Homo sapiens: one gene and its partner. The protein of the gene in region 2 interacts with the protein of the main gene of each other region in a biochemical or structural test. Each region holds a gene or a part of one and is shown on either strand. Other genes may lie near its edges.

The links.
Region 1: the proteins of PATJ (region 2) and TANC1 interact in a test that uses a peptide from one of them, tested with the Homo sapiens proteins (2 studies listed by IntAct, with this or other methods).

The regions. Positions count from the first base shown.
Region 1 is NC_000002.12:158,963,528-158,971,773, forward strand, and holds the start of TANC1 (protein TANC1), read left to right. Parts: upstream 1-5,112; 5' UTR 5,113-5,255; intron 5,256-6,100; exon of another isoform or gene 6,101-6,454; intron 6,455-8,246. UniProt on the Homo sapiens protein: May be a scaffold component in the postsynaptic density.
Region 2 is NC_000001.11:61,737,686-61,745,561, forward strand, and holds the start of PATJ (inaD-like protein), read left to right. Parts: upstream 1-4,794; 5' UTR 4,795-4,870; exon of another isoform or gene 4,871-5,099; intron 5,100-7,876.

The DNA of each region.
Region 1 (8,246 bases), on a different chromosome or scaffold from region 2:
CACACAAGAAAGATAGAGGAGCAAAAGTTTATATTTAATCAGTTTCTGCTCCAAATCAAAAATGTTCAGATCTTTAATAGTTAGACAGATAGGACTTCTAATTGTTGTATTAAAAACTTCTAAATGCACGAATCTTGTTTTATGCACCCTTAGGCTTGGAAGTTACTGCTGTCTCTTATATGTGGCCCTTTAGTGGACAAACCTCTTCAATTTTATCAAGTTGATTTTCTTCATCATCCACAATATCAACATTCCTCATCTCTTTCTGGATTAAGTTGTCTGATCATCCAGAGACAAACAGCAAACTGATTTTTAAACAAAACCAAAATTGCTATTTTGGCTAGGTTTTCCATATTTTTGTCCCCCCATCTCCCACATCTCATCCCCTTTAAACCAAATCTTTTAGTAGGTGCTATTTTCTGATTTGCATTTCTTCAAATAAATATGCAACTACAAAGTAGTTTTGATTAGTGCTTGGTCTTACGAAAGTATTTCAGGGGTTCAAGTTCGTAATCCCATTGGTATTTATCAGTGTTATTTCACAGAATTGAAAAGATTGTCACTAATTAATAATATAAATAAGATTGTACTGGCAGTTGCAAAGAATCTCAGCGAGAATTTTTTTAAAGAAAATATTTCCTTTACATTAATATATTATGTAAGAATTTTCACATGTTGATTTGCATAGAGTTGTGCCTGTGTTAGACATACACTACACTTTTTCCTCTACAGTAACACAGGAGAAAATATATCTCTGTAAATGACTCCTGACTGCGACAAGACCTGCCAATTTACCCTCGGATAAGTCTCTGAGAGCTTAATTGGAGTTATTACCTACTACTAAATCATCTTTAAGTCACTCTTCCTTAAGAGCACAAATATAGGCATTCTGGACTGCTCTGATCAAACCTTTAGGTTGTTATTCAAGCCAAAGTGGCCCCAGGTAACAGGGAGAGGAAAACATCTAACTGTCTACTAAATAAAAACTAACTTTGGTAGAGCATTTTCTAATTAATTGTTTTCAACCTTTTTAAAATTTAATCTTCCCAACACATCTGTGAGGCTGGGATCCTATACCATTCTCCTTTTTTCATAGATTAGGAACCTGGGGCTCAAAAAGGCTAAACGAATTGCCAGTCACCACAAACAGTAAGTACCAGTCAGAATTGGCATTTAGATATTATGACTCCATTTCCAGTGCCTTTTCTAGCACAACTTGCTGAAAAGAGGGAAGGTGGAGAACATTAAAATGCATCTGTTATACTCAAAGTTAAGAACACATTTCTTTTTAAACTGTCTTAGCCAGACTCAATGACATTTCTCAGAGGGGTTACTATCTGATTGCCTTACCTACCTTTCCTGAACAAGGGAATTTCCTGTTTCCCCCTATAGGGTATTTCACTATCAGAAGATTAATGAAAGTCTATATTTAAAATCTGAATCTAAATTTATAAATGTAGATTTCTAAATCTAAATTTATATTTAAAATACTACTCAGATGGCATGCCGTCTTAAAGCAGGTTCTCCCAGGACTTTATTTATTCTCATATTCTTATAAGGAAATATGAACCTCTGACTCTATCTCTCTGTTTCTTCTCTCAGTGGATTACATATCGGTTTAAACAATTCACTGCCTCACCCATATTGGATGAGTTTCTATAATGTTGGCAGGCCATGTGTTAGACCTGTGGAGGGGTTTATATGTCCCATGACTCCTTAACTTTAACTGTCTGGCTAACTGTGCACAGCTACGGCTTTCTATATTCCTGGATGAATGTCTGCCATTAGCTTGCAGCTGACCATGGTGTTGGCATCCGTGTATGGCCATGGATCGTTACACACGCTGGGACTGTGGTGTAGGGGTATGTAATTTCATTGCTTTTCCCACCTGATTTCTAACTACACCCAATTTATTTTATTATTTTCAATGTCTTTAATAAAAATTATTTTCTTCCCCAAAATGTTAAAAGGGAGAGGAAGAATGAGTGGACCAAAGGAGAATGGATTTTGTAAACATTAAAAGATGCCCCAAAGAAGAAGTGTTTGTGTGCTGAATTATTTTGAGTCTAGATTTCCTTAAATTTTGCCTTAAAAATTGACTTAAAATTTTTTTTAGCCCTGTTACAGTTTTTGGATGTAATTAACTACAGTGTTTTAAACATTTTACTTCTCACTATGTATTCTATACTACACATACCATAATAAACACTGGCCATGATCCCAACTTAGACTTGATTTAAAATAGAAGTACTTACGAATCCAAGCAGGAAAAAAAAGCATTCTAACACTCACAAGGCACATTCTTTTCTCACGCTTTCCTCAGCCTATTCCCCTGGGCAGTAAATTGTATAGTAAAATGACCAGTTTATTATTTGCTGTTTTCTTTCACTCTGCTGAGAAAAGCTACATTGCTGGCAAACTGACAGAAAATTTAAAAATGGAATCCAGTATTTTGTATGTCTGTTTAGGGAATGTGTGCAGCATAGACTATTCACGTGATCTATATTTCTCTTTTTTTGTCCTAACTGGTATCAACAGAAATGTAATGAATGAGCTTCTTAAAGTAGATGGGATAAGCAGAGATATCCTCAGAAAAGCAAGAGATGATTCTTGCTTTCCTTTTCCTAAAAATTCAAACAAACCATTAACTAACAACTAACTAAAAACGCTTTTATTTTTTAAGGGAAAAGCAGATTTTAAAAAAATTAAAATTCATTTTTTAATATGTGCTCAGCTAATACTTCACTTATTAAGATATTTAGAAAATGTTCACATTTTTTTCTTACAAAACGGATCTTAATGGAAGCCCCCTGTTTGCCTCACCCATGAATTTTCATTTTTTTTTTTTTACTCTTTTTGGCCTTGTCTTTTATAAATGTACTATTTTCACCCACAGCTTAAGAGAGCTTCTTTGATGTTCTTAGTACAACATAGTGTATGTAATGTCAGCTGTTTAAAGCTGGAGATCAGATTGTGCATAATAACATATGTAGTTTGGATTATATAAACACTACAGGAAGAAGGGGAGACAGGGCCTTTCTGTGTGCACATTTCAGATTGCTAGCTGTATGCCTGTTTAGAATGTTAAATACTCCTAACTAGGCAGTGATGAAGTTACTTCTTTAGTGACTGTGACTTCTGAAACTATAAAGACAAAACTTTTTCAACTAAAAATAATTTAAAGATGATGTCAGTAATGAACATATTTATGTGATTTTCTACTTGCTACTTAAGGAGCTTTGAGAGTAGAGGGAAAAAAATTGCACTGCCTTCAAAGCCCTATTTAACTAAGCAATTTCATCAAAAATTTGGAAATACAGCTGAGAAGAGCCAAAACCAGAAAAATGTGGTACAAATGATAAATTTCATCCATTATACCTTTCTCCCATTATAAAGAAGTCTGGAGCAGGAAATCTTACCAGTCTATTTTCTTAGGATTGTTTCTCTTATATTTTAATATTTCAGATTAGTTAGACTGCTTGGAGTTTTTGTCTTTTGTTTGCATCATTCTTTTATCATTAAGGTTGCTGTCTGGCTTTTTTGTCTGTTGAAAGATTTCGTTTCAAGATAAATTAAATAAAACATTACCATATTTTTCAGCAATGAAACATTTCAGATGGAGAAAGAAGTCAATAGTTTTCTGGTTTAAGTTTGTATTTTTATTTTCAATATTCTATCCTGCCTTGTTTCGGGAATACTTCAAGGCCGCTGATGTGTTTACTGCTCAAATATCAACACAGCAGTAATCAGGCCTTTGAAACTATGGGTGAAAAATCCAGTCCATTTCAGTCTTTTTAATTTATGAAAAGAGATTGTGTGGCATTTTGCTTCCTGTCCCTTTTCATAAGAACTTTAAATATGGACACCCCTCCTGCTGGTGTCTTTATATAGGGAAGCTCTGCGTGAGGTTGAAGTTTTTATGAGGAAACTTGTTTAAAACACAATCGTATTTTAAGGCGGGTTTGCCACAGCAAGGTTAGGGGTTACCAATAAATCGGTTTACAGCAACTTCTCTATTCTCTGCTCCAGACACACCAATGGGGTGACCCGTGCACAATTCCCGCTGGCCACACAAGGCAGCGGCAGTTCTAGTTGATCCTTCCTTCGTCAACTAGATCAACGAAGGCTGTCTTAGAGAGCTTCGGGTATTAAGTGAGCAGAGTCCCTTAGGCCAATTTGGCTGCCTGGGATTCCTGGGAGGATCTTGGAGAACCCAGGACACCCGAATCCCTAGTCCCTATCCTGGTTTTTGCTCTGCTGGAGAATAACAAAACATTTTGGGAACTCAGGAGTTTAATTTACTGCCACCAACCGACAAAATAATAGCATCTTTGTGTGTTCTCTCCCCTCCGTCCCTCCCACCTCCTTCCGACAGAAGCACGACGCTGGCCCTCTGTGAATGTAGCGCAGACAGCACGGGCCAGCCCGGAGCGGTCGCAGGAGGCTCCAGACCCGCGGCCCCAGGGACGCCCGGGAAATCACCGGCCCCAGAACGTCCCCCATTCCTTTTGGGAAATAAAAAGACGCAGCCGGTGAGATGCCTTCTTAGACCTTCCAGCTCATTTAGCTGATTCTGGCCCCAGAAAGTGTGTTTGTGTTTGTGTGTAGTTAAGTGAGGCAGAGAAAATCCAAGAAAGCCGCACAAGCCACCCCAAAGCGTCCACGGAAACTCCAGCTCGGTTAATTGCTCCCATATGTCCTCCTCGGCTGTGGTAAAAAAGCAGCGAGGAGGGAAGGCCGGGTCGCTTTATTGATTTTGAAGAGGCTGTAAAAAAGACTATGGCCCATCTCATTTTGGTCCCAGAGGGGCCTAGGCGCAGCCCCGGGGGACCCGGTGCCCAGAGGGATGGTAGGGTGCTTCAGGCCCGGACCTGGCGCCGAGAGGCGGGACAAGGGGACCTCGCGCCCAAGCCCCGCGGAAAGTTCGCGCTCCGCGCTCCAGCCGGTCCCTGGATCCGCCGCAGCCCGGGGCGGGGAGGGGCGCGGGAGGCGCGGCCGGGGCGGGCGCGCGAGAGGAAGGTGCCTTCGGGAACACGCGCAAGGGCGGGGATTCGCGCTGCCAATGAGGCCCCGGTGTGGGCCGAGCAAGGCGGGGGGACGGGCCGGAGCGGAGGCTTTGCTGTGGCAGCTGCTGGAGCGGCGGCCGCCTCGGGAGCCGGAGGAGAGGCAGCCGCGGAGCGCCGAGCTGGCCTCGCCCCGAGGCCCGGCCCTGGGTGTGGGGAACCGCGCTGAGGAGCTGGAAACTTTCCCGGCAGGTAACTCCCGCAGCCCGGACTCCGCCGCGGGCCTGCGAGCGCCCCGGGCATGGCCAGCTGCCAGTGTGCGGAGAGGTCGAGAGGGACCCGGGGTGGAGAGGGTGATGGGAGAAGGGAAAGGCGTGTGGGAAAGTTTCTGGAGCGCCCCCTCCTCCGCCGGGCACACCCGGGAGCTTTCCGGGAATAGGCACAGACATGTTGGGCGCCCCGGGCCTTGGTCTCTCGGCGGCTTTGGGGAGTCCGCACCTTCCTTGCGCGGTTCCCCCGCGCCGGACCGAGCCGGCCTCCCCTGGAACCGGTGTGGTGGGAACCGGGAACGCTTGGGGCACGCTCGAGTTCTGGGACCACCCCCGCCCGGCGCGCCCGCTCGCCCCCTTTCCCGCCTTCTCTGTAGCCCTCGGGCTTGGCAAGGGCCTGGGCTACGCCTGGTACCTGGCGCGGGGGAGGCGGGGGGAGGCGCGCCTGGCACCGCGGGGTCCTGGGCGCCCCCCGGAGTGTTGGGGTGCGCGGGTCGCGAAGTTGCCGAGAGAACTTAAGCCGGAGGCATGGTATTGCCCCAGTCTGGGCTGAAAGTCTATTGCTTTGCTTCCAAGAACACTGCGATTAGCATATCCACACTCCTTTATTGGGGGTGGGGGTGAGTTAGGATTAGACGTTGGGGGTTTTTCTTTAGGGGTGGGGCGCTGAGAAGAGCGGTAATTGTCAAGATTGTGAGCCCCCTTGTTCTTGGATGCAGAGTGGTCATTTTCGGGGGACGATATCAGGGCACTGGCTTCCTGGAGGACTTTGGGGTGCGGGCGCGCAGCGCTGTGGGTGTGCGGGGCTCCCGGCTTTGGCGCGGCGGCTTTCCGGAACGCCTGGCTGGGAAGGAAGCTCTAGGCATTGTGTGGTGTGTTTGCAGACAGAAAGGTCCCTGGACCGGTGTTCTCAAAACTTACTGGACTTATTGTGTAAAGCTCCGGGAGGAAATGTGGCGTTGGCCAGGTAGAAACGCGGCGCTGCGGCCAAGGGGCGGAGGACGCCAGGCTCGGCAACGGCCTTCTCCCAGCCCCCTCCTGCCAGCTCCAGATCCGCGTGCCTCCAGTGTTGGGACCGTTCTCAGTGGCGTTGTTCCCTGCTGGAGTTAACTTGGGAGGTGAGGAGGGAACTTTCATCTTGAACTTGACCCCAGAAGCAGCGTCGTCCGTACAGGTTACAAGGTAAATGGAAGCTGAGTCTTAACGTGGGTTGGACCGCAAACTCTGGCTGGCGCGGAAAGGAAGTTCCTGGTTCAGAATCTTTGAGGAAAGGGCTCAAGATTGCTGAGATCGCTCGCTCTGGAAATGCCAGACACACCAGACTGCAGAAGTTAATGCGTGTTTGGAGGGGTGGGGGTGGGAGAGGAAAGGAGAAACCTGGTTAGTTGGCACAGAGGGCTGGTATTTCTCTGTAGTGGAAATGAAGGGAGTCTGCGTCTCTGCTTTCACCAGATCCGCTACCCTCTTTTTTCCTTCCTTGGTCATCTTTATTCCTGCCAGGCTGGCACTCCTGAGGCAGGGGAGGGGAAGGAGAGGAAAGCAGTTGTGAAGCTTCCTGGGTCAGCCTGGAGGTATTTCAGATCTGCTACTAGGAAGATTCCAGGATTTTAACAGCTGCTTCTTGATTGCTGGGAATGAAGGAGTTTATGAGCGGCTGAGACTACTTCATTATAGAAGTAGTCTGAGTGTTTTACTCATCTAAGCTACTTAAAGACCTCACAAGGGACCTTCCCTAGAGTATGCCAGTTTCTGCAGTTTGTGTCAGCCAGAATGCTTGGTGAGTGTTAGTCAAAAAGCATCATAAATATATCCTGGTGGTTCTGAAATGAAAAGTATGTGGCAGTAAAGGAAGTATGGTATCTGATATCCTTCAGGACTTCCTCCTAGGGTTGTTCCTGTTACCTGCCAAGTGAACTTGGTTCAGGCTTCCGGACTGTTGTGATTTGACAATAAGAGATGGGAAATAGTGTCATCGATTTTAGTGGAAGCAGGAAAAGTCCACAAATAAATTTAAGGTGAGTTTTTATGACCCTGTCTTGCACATGTGGTGCCCCAAACTTAACTTTTTGGCACCAAGCCTTTTGGTTTGAAGTGTTGCTGGAACTTGGAAGCAATGGTTTTCCTGCTTTCTTGGTTTAACCACCAGAATGCCCAAATTATTATAATTTATATCCATCCTTGATCTAAGATATAACTGATTCATAGTCAGCCTTTTTCTGCTTCCCATAACAGCCTGTAGAAAAAAGAACATTTTGTCTCTTTAACCACACACGATTTATTTGGTGCCATAGTAGGTTTTGACACTGGGTGATTGAGGGCATAATTTTAGAGACAATGGAGTTGTCTGGATTAAATCGTCCATTTTTAGGCAACGTTCTCTTCTGAGTTGCTGATTAATTCTTTATTTCTCTGGGAACATTAAAACCAGCATCCCTGAGCCAGTGGAACTATAATCCATATTATAATGACTCCTGCCAGCATAGCTGGAGGTTAACTTTATGTCGTTGTTTCCATTAGACATTTCTAACCTAATTGTAAAGATTTTGTCTCAGTTGGGTTGAGAGTAGGGTTGAGAGTCTCATAGAAAAAGAAATGGCTTTATTTTTATCTTTATGATAAAATAAAGTTTGTGTTACAGGAATACATTTACAGAAGCAAAATAAAGAAGAGTGTTTATATATTTGTGGGGAGGATTTGTTTTAGTGTTTAAAATAGTTTGGTTTTCAACTGTCTCTTAAATGCATATTTCAGTGGTGGAAAAACCAGAACCTCTCCCTGCCCCCTTTCTCCCCACGTTATGAAAGTGTTCACTGTACAAAGAACTCTTAAGCCTTTCTGGGTCTTGGTTTTCTCATTTTTTTCATCCCTAAAATGGGATTACCTTGCATCCCTAAAGTTCTGTGACTCTCCAAAAGTTTGAGAAATGTAGGAATTCTGAAGCCAGTGCTGTAATGTTAGAACACTGCTATGGGGT
Region 2 (7,876 bases):
ATCTCCGACTCCCGGGTTCAAGCGATTCTCCTGTCTCAGCCTCCTGAGTAGCTGAGATTACCGATGTGCGCCACTACGCCCTGCTAATTTTTGTATTTTTCGTAGAGACAGAGTTTAGCCATGTTGGTCAGGCTAGCCTCGAACTCCTGACCTCGTGATCTGCCCGCCTTGGCCTCCTAAAGTGTTGGGATTACAGGCATGAGCCACCGTGCCTGGCCAAAAAAAGACACTCTTGAGGATTCTCAGATATAAACGTTTTCAGGTACAGCTAAACCTTGTTTAAAAATTTATTGGATAAATTTTTAAAATTTTAAATTCCAAATGAGAGCCAAAAAAAAAGTTTACATTAAATTAACACAGACCGAGTATAGTGGCTCACGCCTGTAATCGCAGCATTTTGGGAGGCCGAGGCACTTTGGGAGCACTTTGGGAGCCCTTGAGCCCAGGAGTTTGAGACCAGTCTGGACAACATAGAGAGGCCTTGTCTCTAAATATAAAAAATTTAAAAAATTAGCTGGGCATGGTGGTGCATGTTTGTAGTCCCAGCTTCTCAGGAGGCTAACATGGGGGAATGGCTTGGGCCCAGGAGTTCAAGGCTGCAGTGAGTTATGATCTCACCACTGCTCTCCAGCCTGGACAACAGAGTGGGACCCTGTCTCAATTATTTATTTATTTTTCTTTTTTTTTTTTGAGATGGAGTCTTGCTCTGTTGCCCAGGCAGGAGTGCAGTGGCATGATCTCGGCTCACTGCAACCTCCGCCTCTTGGGTTCAAGCAATTCTCCTGCCTCAGCCTCCTGAGTAGCTGGGACTACAGGTGTGTGCCACCACGCCTGGGTTATTATTGTATTTTTAGTGGGTTTTCCCCACGTTGATCAGGCTGGTCTTGAACTCCTGACCTCCGGTGATATACCCGCCTCGGCCTCCCAAAGTGCTGGGATTACATTCATGAGTCACTACACCTGGCCTGAAAAAATTAATTAGTTAATTAACAACACAAAGGAAGAAGGGTGGTTGGTGAGGTAAAATTAATTAACAGCACAGAAATGTAGAGAAAATCAGGTTAAAACTGATAGAGATGATGTTTCCTGGGGTGGCCAGGGAGGCAGCTTTTCAGAAGGGGTTAGACTTGAGTCTAGCCCTAGAAGGAGGGTAGGGCTTACAGAACATTCCAGGCAGGGGAAAGTGGGTAGGTAACGAACAGAAAAGCCATTGGTGTTCCATGGATATGGAATAGATAAATTTGCTCAGAGTAAGATCCTCCAGAGGTGAAGTGGAGATTAGGTTGAAGAGTCAGCAAGAAGGGGCCGGGCACAGTGGCTCACGCCTGTAATCCCAGCACTTTGGGGAGGCCAAGGCAGGCAGATTACCTGAGGTCAGGAGTCTGAGACCAGCCTGGCCAACATGGTGAAACCCCGTCTCTACTAAAAATACAAAAATTAGCCAGGTGTGGTGGCAGGCGCCTGTAATCCCAGCTACTCAGGAGGCTGAGGCAGGAGAATCGCTTGACCCCGGGAGGTGGAGGTTGCAGTGAGCTGAGATCACGCCATAGCACTCCAGCCTGGAATGCGAGACTTTGTCTCAAAAAAAAAAAAAAAGAAAAGAAAAGAGTCAGCAAGCAGGGGAGAGTTTGAAGGGCCTTGAATAGCAAGAAAAGGAGTTTGGACTTGGTTTCATGGTCAACTTAAAGTTACATAGCTTTTTGAAAATAGGGGAATATGTTCACAACATCATTTAATATTAAAGTAAGAAGAGGCAGGCTGGGTGTGGTGGCTCATGCCTGTTATCCCAGCACTTTGGGTGGCCGAGGTGGGTGGATCACCTGAGGTTAGGAGTTTGAGACTAGCCTGGCCAACATGGTGAAACCCATTTCTACTAAAAATACAAAAATTAGCCAGGTGTGGTGGCGGGCGCCTGTAATCTCAGCTACTCAGGAGGCTGAGGCAGGAGAATTGCTGGAACCTGGGAGGCGGAGGTTCCAGTTGCACTCCAGGGTAGGGCCAACAACAGCGAGACTCTGTCTAAATAAATAAATAAGCCAGTCATGATGGTGCATGCCTATAGTCCCAGCTACTCGGGAGGCTGCAGTGGGAGGATCGCTTGAGCCTAGGAATTTGAGGCTGCCATGATTGCACCACTGTGCACCAGCCTGGGTGACAGAGTGAGACCTTGTCTCAAAAAAAATTAATTAATTAAATAAATACAAAATAAAATAAGAGGAGGCCAGGCATGGTGGCTCATGCCTGTAATCCCAGCACTTTGGGAGGCTGAGGCAGGAGGATGGCTTGAGGCCAGGAGTTTGAGAGTAGCTTGGGCAACATAGTGAGACCATCTCTCTACAATAAATAAATAAAGAAGAGGTGCAATAGCCAGGTGTAGTGGTGGTGCCTATAATCTCAGCTTTTCAAGAAGGATATTAAGGTGGAAGGATTGCTTGAGTCCAGGAGTTTGAGGCCAGCCTAGGTAACATAGTGAGATTCAATTTCAATTTAAAAAATAAATAAATAAAAATAAATTTAAAAAGAAGAGACCAATGTTTGCAAGGTGATTCTTTGAGATAATTGGTCTCCACCTTTCTTTTTTTTCCTATTTAATTTTTATTATAGGTTCAGAGCTACATGCACAGGTTTGTAGGCCAGGTGCAGTGGCTCACGCCTGTAATCCCAGCACTTTTGGAGGCTGAGGCGGGTGGATCACGAGGTCAGGAGTTTGAGACCAGCCTGGCCAACGTGGTGAAACCCCATGTCTACTAAAAATACAAAAAATTAGCCGGGTGTGGTGGCTGGCACCTGTAATCCCAGCTACTCAGGAGGCTGAGGCAGGAGAATGGCTTGAACAGGGAGGCAGAGGTTGCAGTGAGCTGACTGTGCCACTGCACTCCAGCCTGGGCAACAGAGCGAGACTCTGTCTCAAAACAACAACAACAACAAAAAAACCAGGTTTGTTACATAGACAAATTGTAGGCCATGGGGTTTGATATACAGATTATTTCATCACCCAGGCAATAAGTATAGTACCTGATAGGTAGTTTTTCAATCCTCTCCCTTTTCCCACTCAATCTCCAACTTTATTTTGCCCCCGACTTGGAAAGCCTTTCCTTCTCCATTTTACCTAAATTAATCTCAGACTCTGGTTAAGACCTGTTTAAGTTCTAACCCATGCTTTCAAAAAACATAATAGATCTCTTCATTTTCTGAGGTCTGGCTTCCATCTGGCAATTTGCCTGTTATTTCCCTCAGTAGTTTGTTAGTTCCTAAAAAGCAGAAACCATGCTGATATTGTGTGTCTTCTTACCATGACTAACAAGTGTTACATTTCTTTTAAAACAAGGAAGCAAACTACAAAGCACCAAGTGCATGATCTTAATTTTATTTATTTATTTATTTATTTGAGATGGAGTCTTGCTCTGTCGCCCAGGCTGGTCTTGAACCCCTGGGCTCAAGTGATCCTCCGACTTCAGCCCCACAGAGTAGCTGGGACTACAAGCTCACGGCACCACTCCGGGCTAATTGTTGTTGTTGTTGTTGTTGTTGTTTTTGAGGCGGGGTCTCTCTCTGTCACCCAGGCTGGAGTGCAGTGGCAGGATCTTGGCTCACTGCAACCTCTGCCTCCTGGGTTCAAGTGATTCTCCTGCCTCAGCCTCCTGCGTAGAGGGGACTACGCATCCACCACACCCGGCTAATTTTTGTATTTGTAGTAGAGACGGGGTTTCATCATATTGGTCAGGCTGGTCTCGAACTCCTGACCTCGGGTGATCCACCCGCCTCGGCCTTCCAAAGTACTGGGATTACAAGCGTGAGCCACCGCGCCCCGCCTGAAAGTCTTTATGTTGTAGTTGTTTTGTATCTATTCCTCATCTTCCTGGGGACAGGGATACCATTTTACACATCTTCCCACAATCAATCACAGTGTTTAACAATTACTGTATGTACTCTATGAATAAGATACCTGAAGATTGATTCTCTTTATCGTTAATGTGTGGACTGTATCAGGCAAAGTAAAACCCCTATCATCAAAAGCCTAAAGTTATTAAAGGGAGTGGAAGAAGGCTATCGGGACATATTTTTCTCGAAGGTGTGACATCACAAATAAAAGAAAATTAACGTATAGTGAAATCATCACTGTAGTTAGAGTCAAAATGCCTTGCCTGTGTTCCAAACTTTGGGCCAGTCAACCTACAGGGTGCACGGTTTCCTCATTAGTTTCTTCAGAGAGTAAATGAGACATTGCATAAGCTAGCACCTAGCATACAGCAGGCAAATACTGCTGGATTTCTTTCTTCCACTAAATGAGAAGAAAATAATGACTCCCACATTTACACGTTTTAGAATATTTTATTTTGCGTCAGCGAATAGAGAAAACAAAGGAGGGATGAGAGAACAGGAAAGGAAAGGGGCAAAAAGACAAAGTGTTAAGCGGATTGACCCAACGCTTTCATCGATATCCTCCTCAATTTCCTTGATCTTGGGTCTCGCTCTACACGCAGGCCTCCAACCACACCGGTCTGTCCGGATCTCCCTCCCCGTCAGTGGCGGCTGTCCCCACCACGCGCGGTCTGATCCGCCACCCCGCCCCCACAGCCCACTTTTCCCAGGCCCTTGGCCATCCCGCGCCCGGTAGGAATTCACCTGCACGTAAACAGCCAGGGCAACCGTCCTCCCTCCTTGGAGCCCGCCTCCCGCGGCCCCGGGCTCCCTCCCCCGCCCCCTGCGCCACCCCGGTGCCCCGCCCCGGGCGGGGAGAGTCGGGGCGAGGGGAGGGCCTGCCAGGTGAGGCGCGGTCACCCTGGGCCTCTCACTTCCGCCCAGGTGAGGCAGGGCCGACACCGAGCCCGCCCGACCCGGGCTCCCACCTGCTCCTCCAGCGCACCAGGTAAAGCGTGAGGTCCCGGCTGTGCAGTGCGCGCTCGCCCCTGGGTGTCCCCGCGCCTGGAGGCCGGCCGGGGGCAGCTCCCTCGGGGCTTCCCGGGCCTGCCTGCCCTGCCCCCGCGCTCTCCCCGCCCGCCCGCCTGGAGTGGGTGGGAGCCGGAGGTGGAGGGCGCCGCCGGGCGCTCAGAGGGGCCGCGGCGAGGATGGGGCGCCCGCGGCGTGCGTCCGCGCTGACCCGGGAGGCGGGGCGGGGGCGCCGTCCTCCTGCGTCGGGCCCGGGTGACCCCACGGTGGTCCCCGCCCCGCCGCGCAGGGCTCGCCGAGGCCGCGGGCAGGGAGGGGCGCCGCCCCGCCTCCCCAGGCCTTTCGGGCCTCGAATCTCGGCCCACTGGTATTCGGGGGTGGCACGGATCCTATTTTGCGCCCAGATCGGTGCCCCTGTTTCGCTCCCAGAGCTGGGCGGAGTCTTTCCCTCCATCGGTGGCCGTGGAAGGAGGGAACGGGGTGAGGGGACAAAGAGGAGGGGGTGCTCAGAGCCGGGCTGAGGGGGCGACTTGGGCCCGGCCGCGTCGCGGCGCCTGGTCATCCCGTAGCGGAGGTTCCCAAGCCAGCGGTCAGGCCCTGGGCTCTGCCAGCCTTGCTGCGTAGATGGGGAGGTTCTGTCGGAAAGTGCTTCCAGCCTTAGGGGAAATTCCTGGACTCCTGCTTTTAAATCAAGCTCAGGAAAGCATTTTCAGATCACTCCCACTCTCCAAAGCGCCCCAGCCGTCCCGCACGCAGGCCGAATTAAGTGAACACCCCTTCACTTGGCACTTTGTCATATTTCCAAGTGGCTCTTGTCACTTTGAATTCCAGTTGGTTGTTTACTGGCTTGCCTCTGCCATTTAGAGGGTGCCCCTTTCAGGGCCTTATTTTTCGACTGCATTTAGGGTCTGGCTATTGGTAGGTGCGCGACAAGTGTTTCTTAAAGGAAGGCAGAAGCCTTTGGAAACCCAGAAGGACAATGTCGGTTCCACTGAGGATGATACTACCACATTCTGGGCTAAATTCCTATTGGCTGCAAATTAATTTGCACACATCTATTTGAAAGGAGTGGAGGCAGGGGCAGCGGTTAAAAACTTAAATCTGTTTGCAGCATTAGAAAATGTTAGGTGAGATTGAGCCTTTTAGCTAAAGTGAGCTTTGATGTTTTTAGGGCCCCTAATGGCCTTTAAGATGTTAACAATAACAACAACAACAAAACACTCCAAATGTGTTGAATTTATTTGGGAATGAGAAATGAGCGTTATAGCCCGAGGTGCACAGGCCTGGCAAGCCATATATGCATGGAAGAGGGGAGGGTAAAAGGAAACTTTTATTGGCAAAGTAAGTGCAGATAAGCTGCGTGAAAACAGAGTTTATTGGTTTTGCAGACTGAAAGCCAGAGTTGGCCATTGTTGAAGATGCCATTACTGGGCAGGTGTTATGGAGAGCATCTTATCAGGCCTGGCAACCTGCCTCATGCCTGTTATCTCAGCTACTTAGGAGGCTTAGGCAGGAGGATCGCTTGAGGCCAAGAGTTGGAGACCAGCCTGAGCAACATGGCTGTCTTTACAGAAAAAGCTTTTTAAATAGTCAGGTGTGTCGGGAGGTTGAGGCAGGGGAATTGCTTGAGCCCAGGAGATGGAGGCTGTGGTGAGTGGTGTTTGCACCACTACACTCCAGCCTGGGTGACAGAGCAAGAACCCTGTCTCAAAAAAAAAAAAAAAAAAAAAAGGAAAAAAGATTATCTTATCTTATCTTATCTGAATTACTGCATTCCTAAAGAAAGAATTTCTTGGGTGGTTATTTTAGTTCCTTCTTGAGACCGATCTTTATCTCAGACTTGCAAGCATGAGCTTTCTCCCTCAGGCTCTCTAGTTTGTTTGGGTTTGACAAAAAGTGATTTTGACCTGGTATCTGCAACTTTCACAAAGATAATAACAAAGTTAATAAATATGGAAATACTTATGGATAGAACTTATAAAATGAGTTCTGAAGAGATTTGCCCTTACTAGTCCAGATCCTATTAGGAGTAAGAGAAAAAACACAAACTTTTTCCTCTGCTCTCACACCACTACAGTCAACACTGAGGACTTCTGTGACCAAATAAATGTGTGGGCCCATCAGTTCTGCATCAAGCAATAGCTGAGCATCTAACAGTTCGATTCTGAAACTATTTACCTGGGGATAGTGTCAGATCCCATAAGACTGCCCTCACTTCTGATGCCAATCACAAGTCCTAGATTGTTTTACCCCGGCTTCTGACTAACCACCTATAAATTGGGAATCCCATAACTCCCTCCTCTGGGTTGGTTAACTTGCTAGAGCAGCTCACGGAACTCAAGAAAACACTTATTTAGGTTTATTACTAGTTTATTATTAAGAATATTACAGAGGATACAAGAGGAAGAGATGCACAGGGTGAGGTATGAGAAGGGGCATGCCACCCTCCAGGAACCTCCATGTGTTCAGATATTGAGAAGCTCTCCCTACCCCATCTTCTTGGGCTTTTTATGGAGACTTCATTGAGTAGACATAATTGAAGCATGGGGTAGGGAAACCCAGCAATGCCTATCTGTTCAGATTTTTCTTGGCCTCTCTCTGTAGCATTCCTTCCTCCAGGGTATGGGCAGGACCCCTTCTTATGGGGGTCTTATGACCTACAATCAGACAAGGGAGATCAGATAATTTTTTTAAATATTTATTTATTTATTTATTTTGAGACAGAGTCTTGCTCCGCTGCCCAGGCTGGAGTGCAGTGGGTGATCTCAGCTCACTGCAACCTCCACTTCCCGGGTTCAAGTGATTGTCCTGCCTCAGACTCCTGAGTAGCTGGGATTACAGACATGTGCCACCATACCTGGCTAATTTTTGTATTTTTAGTAGAGACAGGGTTTTACCATATTGGCCAGGCTGGTCTCGAACTCCTGACCTCAAGTGATCCACCTGTCTTGGCCTCCCAAAGTGCTGGGATTACAGGCGTGAGTCA